Linked DNA regions of Homo sapiens. The protein of the gene in region 6 purifies or fractionates together with the protein of the main gene of each other region. This does not show direct contact. Each region holds a gene or a part of one and is shown on either strand. Other genes may lie near its edges. The genes, in order: SEMA4G, AXL, EPHX1, SEMA6B, EPHX4, PCDHB3 and CNNM3.

Region 1 (3,500 bases), on a different chromosome or scaffold from region 6:
AGGCAGGAAAAGCAGTGAGGAGGCTGGGGGCATCATTTGGGTCAGAGGAAGGGGCCTGAGCAGGCTTATGGAGACGGGGGACAGATGGTAGTGGCTTGTACCAGGTGAGGGAGCAGGAGGAGACACAAAGAGGCCTGTATGGATTTAAACCCTGGGTAACAGGCAAGAGGAGGAATCATTAACGTGGCAAAGGAGTCAAGAGGCTGGCAGCTGAGGGCATTTGACAGGCAGAGAAGACCAGTGTGGCTGGAGTAGGGTGAGTGAGACCAGAGGAATGGGCAGAGTCCCATCACACAGGGCTAGGAGCATGTGGGACTCTATATTCAGGTCACTGATGAGCCGATACAGTGGTGTGATCCACTTGACTTTTTTTCAGACATGGTCTCACTCTGTTGCCCAGGCTGGAGTGCAGTGGTTCACTGCAGCCTCGACCTCCTGGGCTCAAACAATTCTCTTGCCTAAGCCTCCCAAGTAGCTAGGACTACAGGTGCATGCCACCACATAGAGATGAGGTCTTGCTATATTGTCCAGGCTGGTCTTGGACTCCTGGGCTCCAGTGATCCTCCCACCTCAGCCTCCCAAAGTGCTGGGATTACAGGTGTGAGCCACCACACCTGGCTAGGTTTACATTTTTAGAATATCCCTTGGAAAGTGGTTGGAGAGTAGCAAAAGTGTGTTGTTTGGTAAAATATCTCTGGAAGGAAACTTCAGACAATAGTAACAGCAGTCTTCTTGGCAGGCAACCTGGGAGACAGGGATAAATGGGAGACTCCCTGTTTATAACATACCCCTTTGTACTTTCTAAGTTTTATACTATGTACATGTATTCATTGACTGAATAAATAGCTTTATAAAGTCGTTTTTATAAAAGAGAAGGTTGGGAGGAGCTATCAGGTAGCAACTGCAGATGTCTAAGGAAGAGGTCATGGTGGTCATTTGGACTGGGTGCTGGTGGTGGAGTCAAAGTGGACCAAGTCAAGAGACTTTTAGGACAATGAATTAATTGTGGAGAGGGACTGAATGTGGGGGTGAGGAAGTAGGAAGCAGCAAGGATGATCCCTGGCTTCTAGGTTGAGTCGTAGGTTGGATGAAGTGAGGTGGGAAAGACTGGATAAACAGGTTTAGGAAAGATGTAGGTTATGGAGGAGGGGATGAACTTGGCTTCTGACAAGGTGAGTTTGAAACATCCCTGGGATATCGGGTGGAGAGCAAGCTGGCATCTAGGGATAGATTTGGTTGTATCACCCCAGCGAGGAGGGCAGGAGTTCCAAGAATAGAAAGAGGTGCTGAGAAGGAGCTGGATGGGAGAGGAGAAGCACCTCAGGATGGTGGAATCCCTGGGAGCTCTTGAACCAGAGGTGGAGGGAACTGCAAGAGACACAGGAGATATTGGCAGAATGGTGTCAGGTAATCTGAGGGACAGAGGAGAGAAATAGGGTCATGTTACTGGGAGGCCAAGGACAGTGAGTTCCAGGAAATATTCTGGAGCAGTGAGAAGGATCACAGGTATCTTGGAAAGAACCGTTTGTCCTGTGGGTGGGGGCAAGAGCCAAACTACAAAGCTAGACTAATGGAGGAGGCTTCTAGTCAGGCAGGGGGCTCACAGCCCTCTCCACCTCATCCCACAGACGGAGTGCTTTAACCATGTGCGGTTCCTGCAGCGGCTCAATTCTACCCACCTCTATGCATGTGGGACTCACGCCTTCCAGCCCCTCTGTGCAGCCATTGTGAGTATACCTGTGTTGTGCCAGATCTCTGTTGACTTCATTAGGGATGGGATCATGTTCAAGATGCCAAAGAAGAGACTCAGAGCCAGTGAAGGAGACGGATGGTTTATTAAGGGGACTTCCATACAGGGCACTCCAGTGGCGGCGGGCTGCACTGGAGAACCATTCCCCTTTGTAAAAACCATGCAGTTTTTATAGCATTTTCACTTAGCATCCTCCCCCTAATCACCTCCACCTGGCAAACTTCATTTAACCCAAAACAAAGGGCCTTGATCCCCTGGACAGCATGTGTTCCACAGGATGGGCTAGGGGCTCAGATGTTCTTCATAGATAAGGAGTGAATCTCTAGGTTGGCCACTTGCAGATTTGGAACTCCAAACATACATTGTTTTGAGGCCATAAGGTCATTCTCAGGGGATGCTTAAGTTATTGCTGTCAGGTGCATCTGCCATACAACCTGCCCCTATCCCTGATCGCTGATCCCTGACCCCAGACTGATCTGACTTTGAGCCACTGTCCCTGCCTGTCTTCGGAACCACTTACTGCTGGTTCCTTGTTCCCTAGGATGCTGAGGCCTTCACCTTGCCAACCAGCTTCGAGGAGGGGAAGGAGAAGTGTCCTTATGACCCAGCCCGTGGCTTCACAGGCCTCATCATTGGTGAGCAGGCCTTCTTCCCTATCACAGACATGGTATTTTTAGGATGTGGATCTCATCTCTAGGACCTGCCACCATGTATATGTCATGTGCCCTGTTGAATATGACATGTCTCTCATGCCTGGAATATCCCCACGCCAGATGGAGGCCTCTACACAGCCACTAGGTATGAATTCCGGAGCATTCCTGACATCCGCCGGAGCCGCCACCCACACTCCCTGAGAACTGAGGAGACACCAATGCATTGGCTCAATGGTTAGGAGGATGAGGCACAGGATGATGGGGGGTAGGGGACTATTTCTTCATTTTTACTCCCTTGGCCAGCTGACCACCCCACCCCCAAATCCCCAGGTGAGCCTGTCCATTCCATTCCTGTGTGTTGTCAAGTGAGGGGTCAGCCTCAGAGTGAGGGAAAGGAATCCCCAGCCTGTCTCAAAAGCCTCTCAAACTGCCTGACCCACAGATGCGGAGTTTGTGTTCTCCGTCCTCGTGCGGGAGAGCAAGGCCAGTGCAGTGGGTGATGATGACAAGGTGTACTACTTCTTCACGGAGCGTGCCACTGAGGAGGGCTCTGGCAGCTTCACTCAGAGCCGCAGCAGTCACCGTGTGGCCCGTGTGGCTCGTGTCTGCAAGGTGGATTGGGCTGACGTTGGGGCACGGGTATAGAGGCTGGACCTCTGACCCTGGCCCCTTATCCCGTGCCTCTACCTCCCCAGGGAGACCTGGGAGGGAAGAAGATCCTGCAGAAGAAGTGGACTTCCTTCCTGAAAGCCCGTCTCATCTGCCACATTCCACTGTATGAGACACTGCGTGGGGTCTGCAGCCTGGATGCTGAAACCTCAAGCCGTACACACTTCTATGCAGCCTTCACGCTGAGCACACAGTGGTCAGTGCAGGGACAATCGGGAGGCAAGAAACTGCGGACAGCATAGGGGCTGGAGCAGAGGTCAATGAGGATGAGATAGGATCCACTGTGGGGAGGTCTGGCTGCAAAGTGAGAATTTTTTTTTTTTTTTAAGAGGGAGTCTTGCTCTGTTGCCAGGCTGGAGTGCAGTGGCGCGATCTCGGCTCACTGCAATCTCCGCCTCCCGGGTTCAAGTGATTATCCTGCCTCGGCC
Region 2 (2,522 bases), on a different chromosome or scaffold from region 6:
TAGTAGAGACGGGGTTTCACTATATTGGCCAGGCTGGTCTCAAACTCCTGACCTCAGGCAGTCCGCCCACCTCAGCCTCCCAAAGTGCTGGGATTACAGGCATCAGCCACCGCACCCGGCTAAAGTATTATGTTTCTATGAATACTTGTGATGCTCCCAGAGGATGGTTGTGAACATGTGTACATAAGTGTGGGTGTACCCATGAACCTGGGTATTGGTGCGGGTGATTCTGTGCAGGAGAGACTGTCTAATTCCCTCTGCCCCTCACAGTGGTCCTTCGGGGTGACAATGTGGGAGATTGCCACAAGAGGCCAAACCCCATATCCGGGCGTGGAGAACAGCGAGATTTATGACTATCTGCGCCAGGGAAATCGCCTGAAGCAGCCTGCGGACTGTCTGGATGGACTGTGAGGACCCTTAGGTCTCCCCCAACCCAGAATTCATTCCAAACCCCTGACTACCCCCAGATGGCCCTCACAGGTCCAGGACTCTCTATAACCCAGACAGAATCCCTGAGAATGCTGAGTGACCCACTTGCCCCTCACCAATGCTCTGAGTAGGGCCATCACTAACCAGTGGGGTGCAAATCAGCTAAAGGCACCCTTTCCTCCTTTGTCTGTGTGGGCTGAATCAGCCCCCTGGCTCCCCACCCCCAAGCCAGGTATCCTTGGGTAGTGAATAACAGCACAGTCTTACCTGGCGGCCCTGCCTTTGGGACATGCACTCCCAGAGACTTCTCATTCCAGACTCCTGAGCACACCATGCTTCCCCGACATGCTCCTCAACACCTGAGACTCTCTGCAAAACCCTTCAGTTTGTTTTATTGGCCTTCTCCAGACTCAGGTCTCCTCTGAGATATTTGCAGGATCCTTCAGGGAATGCTTACCAAACTTTGCAATATTGGAGTATGCGGAGAAGGCCGTGACATTTAGCTAGCACTTTGAGGGTAAAGAGAGGATGACTTTGGGTCAGGAGGAGACAGCCTGGGGCGTCAGACTCCTCAGTCCACCTTGGGTACTCCAAGAGCTGAGACGAGTAAAAATAACAGCTAACATTTTCATATAACTGACTAGAAGGCACTGTTTTAGGTGCCTGGCATGTGTCAAATCATTTGGTCCTTACCACAGCCATGTGATGTAGATAGGTATCATTATGATTCCCATTCTGCAGATAAGAAAACCCAGTCCTACAGGGAGGGTAATTTATTTTTATTTATTGACTTGAGTCTCGCTCTGTCGCCCAGGCTGGAGCACAATGGCTCCATCTCGGCTCACTGCAACCTCCCAGGTTCTAGCGATTCTCTTGCCTCAGCCTCCCAAGTAGCTGGGACTACAGGCGTGTGCCACCATGCCCAGCTAATTTTTTTTGTATTTTTAGTAGAGATGGGGTTTCACCACCTTAGCCAGGATGGTCTTGATATCGTGACCTCATGATCCACCCGTCCCAGCCTCCCAAAGTGCTGGGATTATAGGCATGAGCCTCCACGCCCAGTCTGGGAGGGTGATTTATTTGCCAAAGATTGCACAGCTGGTGTGTTTGTTATCTATATCCCCAAATCAAGTAGTTTAAAACAACAAACGTTTATTATCTCACACAATTTCTGAAAGTTGGATACTGGGAACAGCTTAGCAGGGTGATTTTGGTTCAGGATCTCTAATGAAGTTACAAAGATATCACTGGGGGCTGCAGTCATCTGAAGGTTGGGACTGGAGGATTGCTTTCAAGGTGGCTTACTCACATGGCTGTAGCAGGAGGCTTCAGTTCGTTGCCATGTGGACCCCTTTGTGGCACTGCTTGAGCTTACTCACAACATGGCAACCCAGGAGAAAGTGCGAGGAAGCCACATGCCTTTTATGACCTAGTCTCAGAAGTCACACACACCATCACTTCTGCCAAATCAGAAGCAAGTCACTAAGTCCTGCCCATGCTCAAGAGGAGAGGATTTATTCTCCGTCTTTTGCAGGGAGGAGGGTCAAAGAATTTATGGACCTATTTTAAACCAGCACAGCTTGTAAGTGGCATAGCCAGGCTTTGATGCAAGTCTGTTCTGGGGAGCTGGAAGGTCTGTTCTAGCAAACCCTCATCAGAATACTACTCCATATACAGACAGGTTTCCCGAGACCCTTCCCAGCTCCTGAGTCTCCCAGGACCCAACTCAGAAATTCTTGGGAATTCCCAAATCCCCATAGATGGCCTCAAACTGCTGAGGCTCCCTATAACCCTCTAAAATGCCCCCAGTCCCCTGAGTGTCCTAAAATGTCCCCAGGCTTCCAGAATGCACCCCTTCTGAGTCCCTGCTCAATCTCCCACCCCTCATTTTGCTGCCCTAGGTATGCCTTGATGTCGCGGTGCTGGGAGCTAAATCCCCAGGACCGGCCAAGTTTTACAGAGCTGCGGGAAGATTTGGAGAACACACTGAAGGCCTTGCCTCCTGCCCAGGAGCCTGACGAAATCCTCTATGTCAACATGGATGAGGGTGGAGGTTATCCTGAACCCCCTGGAGCTGCAGGAGGAGCTGACCC
Region 3 (3,500 bases), on a different chromosome or scaffold from region 6:
TCTCTTGCCTCAGCCTCCCGAGTAGCTGGAATTGCAGGCGCCTGTCAGCATGCCCGGGTAATTTTTTTGTATTTTTAGTAGAGACGGGGTTTCACCATGTTGGCCAGGCTGGTCTTGAGCTCCTGACCTTAGGTGATCCACCCGCCTCAGCCTTCCAAAGTGCTGGGATTACAGGCGTGAGCCACCACACCAGGCCCAAAAATACTCCACTTTAAAGAAAATATCATTTGGTAATCAGAAAAAGGTGACATTTTGTCAATGTGTATGAAAAAAATTATGCATTTAATACCTGTTCATTGTAGAAAAATTGGAAAGTACATAAAACTCAAAGAGAAATTAAAAGCACTGGAATCTACTGCTCAGGAGAACTGCTTTTTACATTCTTGGAGTTTATCCTCCCAGACTTTTAAAATTCACCAATACATAGTATAAGTACAGTATAAGCATAGATGACTTTTTATAAAAACTGGGTCACACAATGGATATGACTTGATCATTTGCTTTTACCTCCCAGCAATATCTTCTGATCAGTTTTCTATGTTAAATAAATATACATCTACCTTGTCAGTTTAGATGACTGTACTGGACTCCAGTATACTGTCAAACTATACTTGATTAATCCTGTATTGCTGGATACGTGGGGCTTTCTCCCTACCCTCCAGATTTTAAATTATTGAACAAGTATTTATGGAGGCCTGCTGTGAGCCAGGAGCTGTCCTGAGCCCTGGAAACCCAGCAGTGGCTGTACAGACCTGGCCCAGCTGTCAGGGGGCACCTCTAAGGAAACCGGGAGGCAATAATCGTAGCTCCCTTGCAGGGAGGTTGTGAAGGCTGAGTGAGGACATCTGTGCACCTGGAGCACAGTGTGAGTGTGAAACCAGTGTCAGCCCTTATTACTGTCAATACCATGAAGGGGCGGCGGGGGCACTAAGGGTGGCAGGACTCAATATCTAGGCTCTGGGGGGTGCCAGAGCCTGACCGTGCAGGGTCTTCTCTCTCCCTCCACCCTGACTGTGCTCTGTCCCCCCAGGGCTGGACATCCACTTCATCCACGTGAAGCCCCCCCAGCTGCCCGCAGGCCATACCCCGAAGCCCTTGCTGATGGTGCACGGCTGGCCCGGCTCTTTCTACGAGTTTTATAAGATCATCCCACTCCTGACTGACCCCAAGAACCATGGCCTGAGCGATGAGCACGTTTTTGAAGTCATCTGCCCTTCCATCCCTGGCTATGGCTTCTCAGAGGCATCCTCCAAGAAGGGTACGGGGCTGCTAGAGGTTCCATAACTGCCCCGTCCTCGCCAAGGGTGGGCCCGGTGTTCCCACCAGGCTCTCCTTCCGGCGGGGTGAGCAGGGAGTTGGCCCGAGGAAGCTGGGAAAGGAGGGGCCTGAGAGGCCGGCCCCAGACACACCGCCCTCCGGGGCTGGAGATGCCACCCCTATATTTGGGCTCCAGGATTCCTTCTTGCCTCTGTGAGCTTTTCTGACCTCCACCTGGGGGTAGGCGGGCCTGAGAAATTTCATAGAACACCAGAGGGCCCAAGGAGCAATCTGCCTGTGACTCCGTGACTCCATGCCTTTCCCCATCACTGCCAGGGTTCAACTCGGTGGCCACCGCCAGGATCTTTTACAAGCTGATGCTGCGGCTGGGCTTCCAGGAATTCTACATTCAAGGAGGGGACTGGGGGTCCCTGATCTGCACTAATATGGCCCAGCTGGTGCCCAGGTGAGGTCACTGTTGGGGTGGTGTGTGTGTGTGTGTGTGTGTGTGTGTGTGTGTGTCCTCTAAGAAGTGGACCTGTGTGCAGGGTGGGCCAAGGACCCCCCAGGGGAGAGGAGGGAGTGTGACCTGTCACTCAGCAGTGCCTGAGGCACGTTGACTTGGATCCTCCTGTCTGTAACCCAGGGTTGCGGCTCTGGGTCAGGTTCCCAGGCAGAGAAGGCCTGTGATAGGAGGGGAAGGTCAGGCATTAGACCTCTCTGCTGGACCAAGCTCTGGGATAGCCCTGAGCAGAACTCCCCAGAAACTGTATTTTTCCCCCAACCTCCCTTCTCCAACTCCCATGGCCTCCCCAGTGGGGCCAGTGCTGAAAGAGGCTGGCTCTGTGCTCGCTCCTCAGCCCTGAGGCCTGTTCCTCCGCCATCTCTCCTCTCTCCCTGTCCTTGACACCAGCCCAGCCTCACCCCGGCCCCTCTCTCTGCCTTCAGCCACGTGAAAGGCCTGCACTTGAACATGGCTTTGGTTTTAAGCAACTTCTCTACCCTGACCCTCCTCCTGGGACAGCGTTTCGGGAGGTTTCTTGGCCTCACTGAGAGGGATGTGGAGCTGCTGTACCCCGTCAAGGAGAAGGTATTCTACAGCCTGATGAGGGAGAGCGGCTACATGCACATCCAGTGCACCAAGCCTGACACCGTAGGTGAGTGTGCTCAGGGGTCCTCGCCCACTGCCGGCTCCACTGGGGCAGGGAGACACCCGCGGGGTAACCTCACCACCCCACCCCAATGCTGCCCACAGAAGGAAGCCTCTTGTAAGGACCTCCCAGCTCTTTAGATCTTTAAACTGCATTTTCCCATAGAATCAAGAGGATGGACCCTCAGCAGATTCCCAGGCCAATTTAGCAACTCTGTTTAGCCGACTCAGTATTCATAGTGGCTTTCACCCCTGATCTCCCACCCCTGAGTCTATATCCTACACTGAGAAGCAGAGGGATGGAGGGGGTGAGGTAGGAGGAATCCTGGGAGTGGGCAGCTCTGGGGCTGCAGGGGAGAGGGGAGAGGGTGCCCTGGGGCCTTGGGGAAGAGGTTCCCAGGCAGTGAGGGAGGGCCCAGCAACCATGTCTGCCACCAGGGTCCTGTTAAAGGACAATACTTTTTCAAAAAGGTAAATTTATAAAGGAACCAGTAAAATTTTAAAAAGAAACAATTCAAAGACAAATAAGAACACTGAAATTAATTTGCTAACAGACACAAAACTTGTCAACATCCACAGAGTAATATCAATTAAATCTCCATGGGACAAAATTCATTTGCCTCTATGAACAAGAGTCATTCGCATTACCCTCAGTTCTTTACAATTCACAGAACTGTAAAATAGCTCAATGACAAGGAAAGATGGGACCCCTGTAGCATCACGTCAGTCCGGAAGGTCTGCTAGGTAACTCCCTAGATCTTGTCCAGAAGACACCCAGGAATTGTCTTGCCCATCTCAAAGTTCTTCATAGTTTTCATGGCAAACCCATGCCCACACACACGAGGCAGCTCATAATCATAATAATGGCACTTTATAAAAGTCAGCATTTTTCTCTGATTATAAAATACATGTTGTCAAAAAGCTTAAAAATGCAAAAAGTACAAAACATTAAAGACAATCTCATATAACCTCTTCTCCCTCCCCACATCCCCTCTCCTTCAAAAGAACTTGTGAACATTTTGGTGAGAATTTTCACAAGTGAAGTACGTCCATATCACCAACATGGCCCCAACACTCCAGATGCCCCTCGGGG
Region 4 (3,500 bases), on a different chromosome or scaffold from region 6:
AACACAGTGAAACCCCGTCTCTACTAAAAATACAAAAAATTAGCTGGGCGTGGTGGCAGGCGCCTGTAGTCCCAGCTACTCAGGAGGCTGAGGCAGGAGAATGGCATGAACCCGGGAGGCGGAGCTTGCAGTGAGCCAAGATCACGCCACTGCAGTCCCGCCTGGGCGAAAGAGCGAAACTCCGTCTCAAAAATAAAATAAAATAAAATACAAAAATTAGCCAGGCGTGGTGGTGGGCGCCTGTAGTCCCAGCTACTCGGGAGGCTGAGGCAGGAGAATCACTTGAACCCGGGAGGCGGAGGTTGCAGTGAGCCGAGATCACGCCACTGCACTCCAACCTGGGGCCAGAGGGAGACTACACCTCAAAAAAAAAAAAAAAAAAAAAGAGGTAGACAGACAGACACACACCAGGAGAACAAAGGGGGAAAGAGACAGAGAGACAGGGAGAGAGACAATCAGAGACAGACAGACACCCAGAGAGACAGAGATAGGGAAGAGAGACAAAGAGAGAAAGAGACTGAAAGATACACAGACACACATACATATCAGGAGAAAGCGGGGCTGGGCACAGTGGCTCATGCCTGTAATCCCAGCACTTTGAGAGGCTAAGACGGGAGGATCACTTGAGGTCAGGAGTTTGAAACCAGCCTGGCCAAATGGTGAAACCCTGTCTCTACTAAAAATACAAAAAAAAGAAAATCAGCTCGGTGTGGTGGTGTGCGCCTGTAGTCCCAGCTACTTGGGAGGCTGAGGCAGGAGAATCGCTTGAACCCAGGAGGCGAGATCGAGCCACTACACTGCAGCCTGGGCAACAGAGTGAGACTCTGTCTCAAAAAAAACAAAACATAAACTTGCCAGGCGTGATGGCGTGTGCCTGTAGTCCCTGCTACTCAGGAGGCTGAGGCAAGAGAATTGCTTGAACCCGGGAGGCGGAGGTTGCAATGAGCTGAGATTGCGCCACTGCACTCCAGCCTGGGTGACAGAGTGAGACTCCATCTCAACCAAAGAGACAGGGCTGAGGAGAGCCTGGTTTGGGGTTATGTTTCAAAAAAGGGCGAGTGTGCCCACGTGCCTGTGTAGTCACGCATGTCCCCGGCATCCATGCACACACGCATTTATTGCTGTCACATGTGTTGGTGTGTCAGTGTCTGTATGCACCCGTGTAACTATGGCCATGCCCGTGTTGGTGGCATGTGGTGATATGGGGCCAGCCTGACCCTCCCCTGCCCTGTCCCCCAGGCACCAGCTGACTCGAGTGGCTGTGGACGTGGGAGCCGGCCCCTGGGGCAACCAGACCGTTGTCTTCCTGGGTTCTGAGGCGGGGACGGTCCTCAAGTTCCTCGTCCGGCCCAATGCCAGCACCTCAGGGACGTCTGGGCTCAGTGTCTTCCTGGAGGAGTTTGAGACCTACCGGCCGGACAGGTAAGTCTGGGCAAAGGTGGGAAGGGGTCGCCAGCAGGAGGGGAGATGGGCTGAGATGCGCTCAGCCTCACCACTCTGCTTGTCCCCAGGTGTGGACGGCCCGGCGGTGGCGAGACAGGGCAGCGGCTGCTGAGCTTGGAGCTGGACGCAGCTTCGGGGGGCCTGCTGGCTGCCTTCCCCCGCTGCGTGGTCCGAGTGCCTGTGGCTCGCTGCCAGCAGTACTCGGGGTGTATGAAGTGAGTGTCCACCCCAGGCCAGCCGTGGGCGGGAAGCAAGGGAGGATGGGCACAGGGAGGGACAGCTGGGTTCCAGTCAAAAGCCCAATGATGTCCTGGTCATTGAGCTGGGCAGAGGGCATGGCCCGTGCAAAGGCCCGCGGGCAGGACCACTCCTGGTGTGTTGGAAGAACAGCAAGGTGGCCGGTGTGGCTGGAGCACAGTGAGCAAGGGGGAGTGAGGGAGGAGGGGAGGACGGGGAGGGGATGGGAGAGGACGAGGCAGTTTGTGCAGAGCTTTGTGAGCCTCGGGGAGGACTTGGGCTTTGACCTTGAAGGAGATGGGAGCCATGTAGGGTTGCAGGCAGAGGAGGGACTGGCCCTGACTCAGGTGCTTACAGGTGCCCTCTGGTGGCTGCTGCCAGGAGGAGACTGCAGGGGAAGGAGAACCAGGGACCAGGGTGGAGGCTGTTTCCCCGTCTCTAAAATGGGAGGAAAGCTAGGATGCATGCCAGTGCTGGCACACGCCTGCACTCCATGTGAGCCGTCAATGCGGAGGACCCTGCTTCCTGCCCGCCGTTATTGCAACAATGACCCAGTAGCTCCGAGTCCAAGGGCACAGCCTCTGGCACGATGCCTGGGCTCCCATCTCAGCTCTGCCACTTGGGCAAACATTTACTTTCTGGAGCGTCAGTTTGCTTATCTGTAAAGTGGGGAGTGAACAGTGCCCTGCACACAGATTTGTTCTAAGGACTCCAGAAGTTGCTATTAAGAAGAGGGACTGGGCTTGGTAGCTCACGTCTGTCATCCCAGCACTTGGGAGGCCAAGGCAGGAGGACTCCTTGAGCCGAGGAGTTCGAGACCAGCCTGGGCAACACAGCATAGTGAGAGCCTGTCTCTAAAAAAAAAAAAAATGCAAAAATCAGCTGGGCGTGGTGGCACACACCTGTGGTCCCAGCTACCCAGAAAGCTGAGGCAGGAGGATCACTTGAGCCTGGGAGGTTGAGGCTGCAGTGAACTATGATCATGACACTGTACTCCAGCCTGGGTGACAGAGCATGACCCTGTCTCTTAAAGAAAAAAAAAATTAAATTTTAATTTAAAAAAATTTTTTTAATTTTAAAATAAGAAAACGCCAGCCGTGGTGGCTCACACCTGTAATCCCACCACTTTGGGAGTCCGAGGCGGGTGGATCACTTGAGGTCAGGAGTTCAAGACCAACCTGGTGAAACCCTGTCTCTGATAAAAATGCAAAAATTAGCTAAGTATGGTGGCGCGTGCCTGTAATCCCAGCTACTCGGGGGGCTGAGGCAGGAGAATCGCTTGAACCCGGGAGGCGGAGGTTGCAGTGAACCAAAATCCCGCCACTGCACTCCAGCCTGGGCGACAAGAGCGAAATTCCATCTCAAAAATAACTAAATAAATAAACAACAAGAGCGAAATTCCGTCTCAAAAATTAATTAATTAAAATAAAAATAAAGAGGCAGGTGCTTGGAACAGGGCCCACAGGTCACCATCACCATTGGGGTTGTGTAAGTGACTTGGACACTTGTCCCATTCGGTCCCTGGTCTGCTCTAGGAACTGTATCGGCAGTCAGGACCCCTACTGCGGGTGGGCCCCCGACGGCTCCTGCATCTTCCTCAGCCCGGGCACCAGGTACTGCGGGAGAGGGAGGTGGGTGGAGGGTGTGTCAGACCCGCCCATGATCCCAGATCCCCCTGATCTCTGACTGTGAGAGGGGCCTCTGCTGACGGTGCCTCCTCTCCCCATTAGAGCCGCCTTTGAGCAGGACGTGTCCGGGGCCAGCACCTCAGGCTTAGGGGACTGCACAGGTGAGTTGGGGGGACGGCAGGCTAAGACCCC
Region 5 (3,500 bases), on a different chromosome or scaffold from region 6:
GTATGCTGTTTATTATTTTGAGAAATAATTATTGAAAAGTTTATACTTAGAAAGTTTATTTCTTTAGAACACACACCTAAATATTCATTTTAAAATGTTATACAGATGCACTTGCATTATTTCTGTTGTATCAATCAGTTAGAACCACATAATATTGTGGAACAAACCACCCCAGATTCGGTGGCATAGGGTCATAACCATTTTTTCCTGTGCTCATGGATCTGCAGGTTAACCGTAGGCTGGACTCCTCTGGTCTTTGCCTCAGGCTGCAGGTCCAGCTGGGACTGGCTTCTCTCTGTGAGTTGGGCTGGAGCCCAAGCTAAAAGGGAGTGGCTGCCTGAGGGAAGCTTTTTTCCTGGCGATGGTAGAGGGTGAGCCCAGGTGCACAAGCTTAAGTTTCTACCGGCAGCCCATTAGTCAAAGCAAGTCATATGGTGGAGCCCAAAGTCAAGCTACATAGCCACCACGAGACCAAAGCAAATCACATGGCCAAGTCTAAAATCAAAGGGGCAGCAAGTAGACTACTGTGACAGCAGGGAGAAGGGGAAAGTAAATATTTTTTAACAATAATCCAATCTATTAATACTATATCCCTTTTGACTGAAACCAAGCTGCTACCATCAGTATGTTAATGGAAGCAATATAGTGAGAAATACCATGAAATCAAAGGCACTTTCTACAGTAATCTAATGAGAGCATGGATCAGGCCAATATTTTTAGGGGAAAAAAAATGAATGGGGTCTGGGGGTGTCACATACAATATTGTCATTTAGTCTGATTACAGTAAAAGAGACTCAGACACTGATTTTGAACAATTATATTTCAAATTTTGTGATAATTCAGTCAGACCTGGCCTAAATTTGTCATCATGAAATTTTTAGGCAAATAATTAATATAAACAAGATTTATGCATGTGTGTTTATGTCTACGTGTGTGTATTAGTATAGTAGTGAGGAGTGATGGTGAGAATTACTTCCTTGAAAGAATTAAGCAATTTTAAGTACTCCAGGAATAAATTACAAATGAATTTTATGCATCCATACAATGGAAATCCTGTAGGAATCTCTATTAATCAACATTTTAACGTACTTTAAATTAACCGAGTGATTACATGAAATGAAACTGGTGCAAAATTGGTGCTATAATTAAGACTTTCCATTACTTCAGTTTGACTTCACAGTTCCAAATTAGTGACAGATTTTCTGTGTTGAATTGTACATAGGATTTGTGAAGTTAGGGAAGAGATAGATGCTTCCTGGAAATAAAGATTTATGAGGTTGGACATAGATGAGACATTTATAATTTTACTATAACTAGAAATTTCTGAGCATTCAAAAAAAAACCAAATAATCTTACTTTTGACTTCATTATGTGCAGTCTTTACCATGGTTTCCAAACTCAGGTCCATGGGACCAGAGCTGAGCAACATAAGCTATTTCAGATGTTTCTTTTGTTTCTTTTGTACCCCCCCACACTTTTTTTCTTTTTTAGAAACAGAGTCTCGGTCTCGCTCTGTCACCCAGGCTGGAATGCAGTGGCATGATCATGGCTCACTGCAGCCTTGAAGTCCTGGGCTCAAGGGATCCTCCCACTCCAGGCTCTACAGTTGCTTGTACTACAGGTGGACACCACCACACCTGGATAATTTCTTTATTTTTTTGTAGAGACGGCTGGGTGTGTGTGTTGGGGGGAGGTCTTGCTATGTTGCCCAGGCTGGTCTCGAACTCCTGGCCTCAAGCAATCCTCCTGCTTTGGCCTCACAAGTGTTGAGATTATAGGTGTGAGTCACCACACCGGCCTATTTCAGATTTTTTTTTTTTTAATATGGATTCCTGGGAGAGATTCTCAATCTATAGGTTTAGAGTGGAGCTATATAGGTGATGTACAGACAAGTTTTGGAACCACTGAATTCAATATCTGCACAAAGTGCATAATTAGGATAAGATAATGAAAAGAGGTACTTCAGAAGTATAACTATTTTATGTGAGGTAACAGTGCACCCACCTGTTTCTTTTTAATGATGTCAACATTTATTTCTTGTTTACAGGGTATAGCAAATGTGTTCTTATTGGCCATGACTGGGGGGGCATGATTGCTTGGCTAATTGCCATCTGTTATCCTGAAATGGTGATGAAGCTTATTGTTATTAACTTCCCTCATCCAAATGTATTTACAGGTGAGTTCAAGTTTTTATCAAAACAGTTCTGCTAATGTGACAATTCACTCTTGCCACTGACCTTTTGGATTAGAAACAGCAAAATTTGGTTACTATCATATTTTAAAATTAAATGACTAAACCATGATAGCACATGACAGTGTCAGATACCTTGGTTTTCAATCTTCCTGGGGAATCTAAGAAAATTTAGCTTTATACTTGCTTACATAATTTTATTCCTTCAAAAAAAGATTTTACTGTTAACTTGGGGAGGGATAAAGGGAAACATACAATGACATTGCTTTGACAGTAATGAATCCTGACAGCCTAGAAATAAATTCTCCTTTTGCTTGACTGCTTTGGCTGTCAGGAATAGCAGTATTCTTTAAAGCAGTTCTCACATTTTTTGGTCTTGGGCTTCTATATGCTCTTAAAATTATTAAAGACCCCATTGAGCTTTTACTTATATGGTTTATAAATATTCACTGTATTGGAAATTAAAATAGAAATTTAAAAATATTTATATGTTAATTCATCAAAAGAAATAAACCATTACATGTTAACATAAATAACATATTTTAAATGAAAGCTAACTACATCTTCCAAAACAAAATTTTAGTGAAAAGAGTGTCATCGTTTTACATTTTTGCAAATCTCTTCAATCTGTTGCAATATGTTGTTTGCATTGAAGTATGTGAGGAAATTTGGCCTCACACAGATCTGTAATTGGAAAAGGGAGGAGTATTTTAATAGCCTTTTCAGATAACTGTGGATTTTCTTTCTTAATACTATACCAAACTTAAAAATTAATGGTTTTGTTTTGTTTCTGTTTTTGTTTTTTTGAGATGGAGTCTCGCTCTGTCGCCCAGGCTGGAGTGCAGTGGCGCCATCTCGGCTCACTGCAACCTCCACCTCCTGGGTTCAAGCGATTCTCCTGCCTCAGCCTCCCGAGTAGCTGGGACTACAGACACCCGCCACCATGCTTGGCTAATTTTTGTATTTTTAGTAGAGACAGGGTTTCGCCGTGCTGGTCAGGCTGGTCTCAAATGCCTGACCTTGTGATCCGCCCGCCTCAGCCTCCTAAAGTGCTGGGATTACAGGCGTGAGCCACCGCGCCCTGCCAATGGTTTCTTAAAGGTAACAATGTGGAATGTGATGGCAAATAAATGATTTTTTAATACTATACTCTATTAAAACCCACAGGTCTCCCTAGCACTTTTATTGTATCTTTTATCCATGCCTGGTTTTGTATCATCATGCATTGTAAGATGTTTGTTCACTGATTTATGCAGATCTTCCATAAGTTGACACATTTCATCATACAGGATCAAAAAATCACATTCTT
Region 6 (4,274 bases):
CTTAATTCTTAATGTTACTCAGTCTATCTTTATATTTTTATATCATTTTTACATACATTTGAATGAGCTATCCTATTAAAATTTTAATATTAACTTTGAAGGTCTTGTTTTGAGATTAGCAATGGTGTAGAGCGCTGTGTTGGTATCAAAAGTCTCTGATCAACCAACTCATTACCTGTAGGATTTTGGATGAGTCACAAAGTTTCTTTTCTTCTACCCAAATGATAGCAGGTATTTGAATAGCTTGCAGTTATACTCAATATAAAGACATAAAAGTGAAATTGCTGTTATTTTTAGTATCACTAGTATTAAGAGCAAACATTCTTGATAATTGTGTAGAAGTACAAAAGCGGCTACATTGAACACATATTTGCACTGTTTTATTTCTGTACCAACAACCTTGCAATGGCTTCCTTTTGTTCTTAGAATAATAAAATCCAAGCGCCCATTATTTGGCCTTGGTTTACCTTTTCAGCCTTCCTTTCCACTTACTCTTGAGACATTAAGTTTTGTATTCACTGTACTTCATTCATTATCTATTAATAGCTATGCTTTGCTCTCTCAGGGCCTTCACACATTCTACAGTCTTAGCCTGGCACACTTCTCCTATTTCATGTTTCAGATTAAATGGTGCACCTTGGGGGAAACTTTCTTAATCACTCTCCATTAAGTTAGGTCCCCGTATTGCATACTTTCAGTGCACTCAGTACCTTTTCTATGTAGCACTTTTCACACTGTTTAAACATCTGTTTAAAGACTGTACACCCACTAGATGGAAAATTGTTGTAAGATATACAGACATTGTCTTGTTACCACCACTTGCCTAACTTCTACAAACTCAACAATTATCTGTGGAAATAAACTAATACAGATGAAATGAATAATTGTAAATTTGCTCTGAAATAAGAAGAGAAAGCACTTTAAGTGTTCCTTGAGCATGATAATCTGGAAGAAATTAGGTATTTGTAGTCCTCTGGATCCACCTCTGACATGATATATTTTCTTTTTTACCACCTTGCAGGAGGTGTCTTTTCCTTGTGTTTTTCTGGTATATGCAATTCGGGCTCATTTCACAAAGTTTAGGAAAAAAAGAAAAACATAAATAGGATAGTGAAGCATGCTATCATCTAGAGCAAAAATCTTTTGAAGTTTGTGTGTAATTATTACAAAAGGGGAGGGGTAAACTAGTATGTGTACACTTCCGTTAAATCGTGTAAATGAGGACTCTACCAGGAAGAATCGCTGCTCGTAGATAAAAGTGCATTTTATTTCCCTAGATTGCATTTATTTAATTCATATAACATGAGAAACTCCTCCAGTAGCGTCAACTAGGGTTGATAAGAATAATCGATAAAGCAAAATAAAAACACCTTCTCCAAGATTTTGTAACTGCAAGCGAACGCATGGTGGCGCTGTTGACTAAGAAGGCGAATTAAACCACAGGCATTGTGCATGCTCGGTGACGCACGGATCCAGTGTGGTAAACCAGCGGTTGAGAGCCCAGGCAGATTTTTGAGCCAGCAAGTCTGAGCCTCTGGAAAGGCTTATTCACTAGGCCGTCTACAAAGGTTGTGGGGCAAAAGACTGTTTCCCAGCTCTGTCTGAGGTTCAGCTTGGCGACATTCCCTGGAAGAGCGTGACGGAAAGTGCAATGGAGGCGGGAGGAGAGCGATTTCTTAGACAAAGGCAAGTCTTGCTTCTCTTTGTTTTTCTGGGAGGGTCTCTGGCTGGGTCCGAGTCAAGACGCTATTCTGTGGCTGAGGAAAAAGAGAAGGGCTTTTTAATAGCCAACCTAGCAAAGGATCTGGGACTAAGGGTAGAGGAACTGGCCGCGAGGGGGGCCCAAGTTGTGTCCAAAGGGAACAAACAGCATTTTCAGCTCAGTCATCAGACAGGTGATTTGCTCCTGAATGAGAAATTGGACCGGGAGGAGCTATGCGGCCCCACAGAACCATGCATACTACATTTTCAGATATTACTGCAAAACCCTTTGCAATTCGTTACAAACGAGCTCCGTATCATAGATGTAAATGACCATTCTCCGGTATTCTTTGAAAATGAAATGCATCTGAAAATCCTAGAAAGCACTCTGCCAGGAACAGTAATTCCTTTGGGAAATGCTGAGGACTTGGATGTGGGAAGAAACAGCCTCCAAAACTACACTATCACTCCGAATTCCCACTTCCACGTACTCACTCGCAGTCGTAGGGACGGAAGGAAGTACCCGGAACTAGTACTGGATAAAGCGCTCGATCCGGAGGAGCAGCCGGAACTCAGCTTAACGCTCACCGCGCTGGACGGCGGCTCTCCCCCTCGGTCTGGGACAGCCCAGATAAACATCCAGGTCTTAGATATAAACGACAATGCACCAGAATTTGCACAGCCGCTCTATGAGGTTGCAGTTCTAGAGAATACCCCCGTTAACTCTGTCATTGTCACTGTCTCGGCTTCTGACTTAGATACAGGAAGTTTTGGGACAATATCATATGCATTTTTTCATGCTTCTGAAGAAATTCGCAAAACTTTTCAGCTAAATCCAATTACTGGTGATATGCAACTGGTCAAATATTTGAATTTTGAAGCGATTAATAGTTATGAAGTCGACATCGAGGCCAAGGATGGCGGAGGCCTATCCGGAAAGTCTACAGTCATAGTCCAGGTGGTTGATGTCAACGACAACCCACCGGAACTGACCTTGTCTTCAGTAAACAGCCCTATTCCTGAGAACTCGGGAGAGACTGTACTGGCTGTTTTCAGTGTTTCTGATCTAGACTCTGGAGACAACGGAAGAGTGATGTGTTCCATTGAGAACAATCTCCCCTTCTTCCTGAAACCATCTGTAGAGAATTTTTACACCCTAGTGTCAGAAGGCGCGCTGGACAGAGAGACCAGATCCGAGTACAACATTACCATCACTATCACTGACCTGGGGACACCCAGGCTGAAAACCAAGTACAACATAACCGTGCTGGTCTCCGACGTCAATGACAACGCCCCCGCCTTCACCCAAATCTCCTACACCCTGTTCGTCCGCGAGAACAACAGCCCCGCCCTGCACATCGGCAGTGTCAGCGCCACAGACAGAGACTCAGGCACCAACGCCCAGGTAACCTACTCGCTGCTGCCGCCCCAGGACCCGCACCTGCCCCTCTCTTCCCTGGTCTCCATCAACGCGGACAACGGCCACCTGTTTGCCCTCAGGTCGCTGGACTACGAGGCCCTGCAGGCGTTCGAGTTCCGCGTGGGCGCCACAGACCGTGGCTCCCCGGCTTTGAGCAGCGAGGCGCTGGTGCGCGTGCTGGTGCTGGACGCCAACGACAACTCGCCCTTCGTGCTGTACCCGCTGCAGAACGGCTCCGCGCCCTGCACCGAGCTGGTGCCCCGGGCGGCTGAGCCGGGCTACCTGGTGACCAAGGTGGTGGCGGTGGACGGCGACTCGGGCCAGAACGCCTGGCTGTCGTACCAGCTGCTCAAGGCCACGGAGCCCGGGCTGTTCGGCGTGTGGGCGCACAATGGCGAAGTGCGCACCGCCAGGCTGCTGAGCGAGCGCGACGCGGCCAAGCACAGGCTGGTGGTGCTGGTCAAGGACAATGGCGAGCCTCCGCGCTCGGCCACCGCCACGCTGCATGTGCTCCTGGTGGACGGCTTCTCCCAGCCCTACCTGCCTCTCCCGGAGGCGGCACCGGCCCAGGCCCAGGCCGACTTGCTCACCGTCTACCTGGTGGTGGCATTGGCCTCGGTGTCTTCGCTCTTCCTCTTTTCGGTGCTCCTGTTCGTGGCGGTGCGGCTGTGCAGGAGGAGCAGGGCGGCCTCGGTGGGTCGCTGCTCGGTGCCCGAGGGCCCCTTTCCAGGGCAGATGGTGGACGTGAGCGGCACCGGGACCCTGTCCCAGAGCTACCAGTACGAGGTGTGTCTGACTGGAGGCTCCGGGACAAATGAGTTCAAGTTCCTGAAGCCAATTATCCCCAACTTCGTTGCTCAGGGTGCAGAGAGGGTTAGCGAGGCAAATCCCAGTTTCAGGAAGAGCTTTGAATTCAGTTAAGTGTTAATAAGGATCTACTGAGCCTCGTCTTAGTTAATCTGTGGAAAGTCCTTTTTTACTGCTTTGTCCATTGGAGAGGTCTTTTTTGGTCTGGTTCAAGGCAAGTAGCAAGAATAGAGCAAAATATCAAATCCAGGGATGGCTTAGGTTTCATTAACAGTACTGGAAAGTAGTTGTGTGGCTCTGAATGTTTTGTATTTCAATCGAGAATCCTTAGTCGATAGAACATTTT
Region 7 (3,500 bases), on a different chromosome or scaffold from region 6:
ATCTCTGATTAAGTCAATCCATTCTAAGACGTCCTTGAGAGAAATACCGACTTACTATACTCTACTCTAAATACCAGTTAGTCTATAGTTTGGTGTCATCCATGCTATTAAAGACAGCAAGAAGTTCAAGTTGAATAATGAATTAAAAAAAAAAAAAGCAAGAAGGGGGTTGGGCACAGTGGTTCATGCCTGTAATCCCAGCACTTTGGGAAGGTGAGGCAGGCGGATCATCTGAGGTCAGGAGTTCAAGACCAGCCTGGCCAACATGGTGAAACCCCATCTCTACTAAAAATACAAAAATTGGCCAGGCGTGGTCGTGGGCGCCTGTATTCCCAGCTACTCAGGAGTCTGAGACAGGAGAACTGCTTGAACCCAGGAGCCGGAGGTTGCAGTGAGCCGAGATCACACCATTGTACTCCAGCCTGGGCAACAGAGCAACAGAGTAAGACTCCATCTCAAAAAAAAAAAAAATTATTTATATATAGATATATATATATAAAGAAGGGAAAAGGATGGGGAGAAAAGAGAGAAAAAAGACAGAGGGTGGGGGGGCGGCGAGAGTGCAAGTCTGTGTGTGTGAGCTCACGGCCCTCAGGTCCAGACACCATGCACGATGTACCACTTGGCACTCACCTGCCGCTGTGGTGGTCTTCTCACCAAGGAGCCTGGTCTGGCTGCCTGGAATAACCTGCAGGTCGGTGTTCTCAGGGGACTGTGGCAGGTTCTGGGCTCGGGTAGCCAGGAGTGCATTGAGGTACTGCAGTCGCGTAACCTGGAGGATGACAGCGTTACTGGGACCCAATTGGTGAAGCGAGATGCAGAAGGTAGGCAGGAAAGGTGACACCGTGCCCGAAGAGGACAGAGGCACAACTTTAAGCTAGTTAAGGGCAGAGAAGAGCAACTGAGTCAAGTGTTTTTAAGACCTTGCTTGGAAACTGGGTGCAAAGGTCTGTGTCCCTCAGGATGAGTGGAAGGCCTTGTTCCGGGCAGTCTCAGACCAGCTGGTCTAGCCCCCGGTGACACAAAGTCGGCTAAAGCCAGCACCCACAAGCAGCCCAGGCAGTCACCTTGATGAGCTGCAGATCAGAGAGCGCCCTCACGGTGTAGTCGGGACAATACGCAGATGAATGCGTGCCGTCACCTGGGTCGGGCTGCAGGTCATGGCGGATGGGCTGGAGCGAGGACACCGGGGACTGGTGAACTATCAAAGGAACAATCAGTGATGGCAGGAGCCATGCTGGCAGCTGGGAGCCTCCTCCCCTGGTGGGGACAACTGTACAGTTTCGAAGACCCACCCCACCAATCACTCTGGAGAGGCAATGTGCATGGGAAGCTGGGAGAGAAGGACAAACACAGCCGGGAGAGGTTTTGCAGGGGTGGAGTGGGCCACAAAGTTGAGCGATGAAGAATGCTGCCCTCCCTCCTGGAAGCCCAGGGGCTACACCACCTTGTGGGGTGGTGGGCTCAGGTGGAAGGAGAGGTGAGGAGGGGCACTGAGAGCCCAAGTGATGATGGGGGACAGGCTCTGCAGCCTCCACCCTGGCCCTCAGCATCAGCAGGGCCGTGGCTTACCCGAGGATGGCACAGTTAGGGCCGACACTCCATAGTACGTGAAGGCCCCATTCTCAAACTTCAGACCCTCTTTCCCGATCTCCACTTCAACCCTGCCCTGGGAGGAGTGGCAAGGAGAGAAACAGATGCGGCCAGATTACCTTTCCCGTCAGAAGACAGCGGAAGGAGAAACCCACCACCTCAATTGTTTGGGGTGGGAGGGTGCATATCCGCATGCCCCTGCTCCCCTCTTCTCCTAGACCCTTCCCTGGCCTGAGGAAGCAGGAGGGACTCCAGGCCTGGGACCCACAGCTACCTGCAGGATGAGAATGAAGTAATCCACCGGCTGGCTGCGCTGGTACAGGTAGTGGTGTGTGGCCAGCCGGTTGCTCTCGTCAAACCTCACTTCCTGGTTGACACTGGGATGCTTCAACAGGTGCAGCAGGACCTTCTCAGAGATGCGCAGCGGGCTGAATACATCCACTTCTGCACGTGGTGGAAAAAAGGGACAGTGTCCACTGGGGCCTAGTGGCCAGTGGAACCACACCCAACACTGTAGGCAATTTAAAGTTATTGTGCCCACCAGGGATCTCCCGGGTGGCCTGTGAGCAGCTGCCCCTAACACCTCAACACAAGAGAACTAGGCAGGGGCCAGGTGCGGTGGCTCACGCCTGTAATCCCAACACTTTCGGAGGCTGAGGCAGGTGGATCACCTGCAGTCAGGAGTTGGAGACCAGCCTGGCCAATATGGCAAAACCCCGCCTCTACTAAAAATACAAAAATTAGCTGGGCGTGGTGATACACGCCTGTAATCCCAGCTACTTGGGAGGCTGAGGCAGGAGAATCACTTGAACCCAGAAGGCGGAGGTTGCAGTGAGCCAACATCGTGCCACTGCACTCCAGCCTGGGTGACAGAGCGAGACCCTATCTTTAAAAAAAAAAAAAAAAAAAGAACTGGGCAGGGCACCCCACATCCGCCCAGCTGAGAGCTGAGGCCCCCTGGCTGTGGTGCACCAGGCGTGGCACTGGCCTGGCCCTGCTCTTGGTCATCTGGCAGAGAGGAGGTGTCTCTCCCATGACCCAAGATGCTGGCAGGGCTGCAGAGAACACAGAAGTCCTCAAGACGCACCCGCCTGCTAGGAGTGGGGAGCAGAGTCAGTGTCGGCCCTGGGCGGCCTCCTGACCCACAGAACGGTGAGGAGAGCAGGGGGCATGGACCACCCTCCCGCCTCACCTCGGGACAGGAAGCGCTGGGTGGCCAAGAGCAGCTGAGGCGAGATTGTTACTTTATATTCATCATCAGACACCTTGAACAAGGAGAACTCCTCCTTCCGCTTCAGAGGGGCCATCAGAGAAGCAGGCTTCCTCTTCACCACGGTGTCTCCTAAGATGGAAGAAGAGGGCGCGCTCAGGCATCAGCCACCTGTCAGTCAACACGACCACACTAAGGGGCTGCATCGCCTGCTCCTTCCTCCTGAGGCCAGGGGGTCCTCGATGGAGCAGCATCGGAACGCCAGGGACATGTCCTCAGCACCGCTCCCTCCACGGGGCCTGCTCCCACCCCAACCACACAGAGAGAGGGGTGACTATCTGCCTTGGAGCTGGCTGAAGAGAATGCTGATATGATAACAAAGCAGCTTGTATAAAATAACAAGCATCCCTGATAGGTCACTGGATGTAGACTAAAAACTTTTTTAAATTTAGGCCAGATGTAGTGATTCACACCTGTAACCCTAGCACTTTAGGAGGCTGAGGCGGGAGGATCACTTAAGGCCAGAAGTTCAACACCAGCCTAGGCAACATAGAGAGACCGTGTCTTTACAAAAAAATAAAATAATTAGACGGGTGTGGTGGCATGCGCCTGTAGTCCCAACTGCTCAGGAGGCTGAGGTGGGAGGAACACTTGAGTCTGGGAAGTTGAGGCTGCAGTAAGCCATGAATGCGCCACT

The links.
Region 1: the proteins of PCDHB3 (region 6) and SEMA4G purify together in Homo sapiens (affinity purification with mass spectrometry; one large-scale study listed by BioGRID and IntAct). This does not show direct contact.
Region 2: the proteins of PCDHB3 (region 6) and AXL purify together in Homo sapiens (affinity purification with mass spectrometry; one large-scale study listed by BioGRID and IntAct). This does not show direct contact.
Region 3: the proteins of PCDHB3 (region 6) and EPHX1 purify together in Homo sapiens (affinity purification with mass spectrometry; one large-scale study listed by BioGRID and IntAct). This does not show direct contact.
Region 4: the proteins of PCDHB3 (region 6) and SEMA6B purify together in Homo sapiens (affinity purification with mass spectrometry; one large-scale study listed by BioGRID and IntAct). This does not show direct contact.
Region 5: the proteins of PCDHB3 (region 6) and EPHX4 purify together in Homo sapiens (affinity purification with mass spectrometry; one large-scale study listed by BioGRID and IntAct). This does not show direct contact.
Region 7: the proteins of PCDHB3 (region 6) and CNNM3 purify together in Homo sapiens (affinity purification with mass spectrometry; one large-scale study listed by BioGRID and IntAct). This does not show direct contact.

The regions. Positions count from the first base shown.
Region 1 is NC_000010.11:100,976,004-100,979,503, forward strand, and holds part of SEMA4G (semaphorin-4G isoform 1 precursor), read left to right. Parts: intron 1-1,628; coding exon 1,629-1,727; intron 1,728-1,816; exon of another isoform or gene 1,817-2,291; coding exon 2,292-2,385; exon of another isoform or gene 2,386-2,523; coding exon 2,524-2,637; exon of another isoform or gene 2,638-2,814; coding exon of another isoform or gene 2,815-2,845; coding exon 2,846-3,015; exon of another isoform or gene 3,016-3,098; coding exon 3,099-3,268; coding exon of another isoform or gene 3,269-3,369; intron 3,370-3,500. Other genes in the region: MRPL43 (large ribosomal subunit protein mL43), read right to left, coding at 2,815-3,008. UniProt on the Homo sapiens protein: Cell surface receptor for PLXNB2. May play a role in axon guidance.
Region 2 is NC_000019.10:41,257,223-41,259,744, forward strand, and holds part of AXL (tyrosine-protein kinase receptor UFO isoform 1 precursor), read left to right. Parts: intron 1-270; coding exon 271-407; intron 408-2,330; coding exon 2,331-2,522. UniProt on the Homo sapiens protein: Receptor tyrosine kinase that transduces signals from the extracellular matrix into the cytoplasm by binding growth factor GAS6 and which is thus regulating many physiological processes including cell survival, cell proliferation, migration and differentiation.
Region 3 is NC_000001.11:225,837,624-225,841,123, forward strand, and holds part of EPHX1 (epoxide hydrolase 1), read left to right. Parts: intron 1-1,030; coding exon 1,031-1,258; intron 1,259-1,593; coding exon 1,594-1,723; intron 1,724-2,205; coding exon 2,206-2,414; intron 2,415-2,932; exon of another isoform or gene 2,933-3,500. UniProt on the Homo sapiens protein: Biotransformation enzyme that catalyzes the hydrolysis of arene and aliphatic epoxides to less reactive and more water soluble dihydrodiols by the trans addition of water.
Region 4 is NC_000019.10:4,546,185-4,549,684, reverse strand, and holds part of SEMA6B (semaphorin-6B precursor), read left to right. Parts: intron 1-1,239; coding exon 1,240-1,422; intron 1,423-1,511; coding exon 1,512-1,658; intron 1,659-3,215; coding exon 3,216-3,293; intron 3,294-3,410; coding exon 3,411-3,469; intron 3,470-3,500. UniProt on the Homo sapiens protein: Functions as a cell surface repellent for mossy fibers of developing neurons in the hippocampus where it plays a role in axon guidance.
Region 5 is NC_000001.11:92,043,485-92,046,984, forward strand, and holds part of EPHX4 (epoxide hydrolase 4), read left to right. Parts: intron 1-2,047; coding exon 2,048-2,176; intron 2,177-3,500.
Region 6 is NC_000005.10:141,098,999-141,103,272, forward strand, and holds the start of PCDHB3 (protocadherin beta-3 precursor), read left to right. Parts: upstream 1-1,474; 5' UTR 1,475-1,651; coding exon 1,652-4,042; 3' UTR 4,043-4,274. UniProt on the Homo sapiens protein: Potential calcium-dependent cell-adhesion protein. May be involved in the establishment and maintenance of specific neuronal connections in the brain.
Region 7 is NC_000002.12:96,826,268-96,829,767, reverse strand, and holds part of CNNM3 (metal transporter CNNM3 isoform 1 precursor), read right to left. Parts: intron 2,936-3,500; coding exon 2,786-2,935; intron 2,038-2,785; coding exon 1,868-2,037; intron 1,670-1,867; coding exon 1,573-1,669; intron 1,202-1,572; coding exon 1,068-1,201; intron 773-1,067; coding exon 634-772; coding exon of another isoform or gene 476-633; exon of another isoform or gene 1-475. UniProt on the Homo sapiens protein: Probable metal transporter.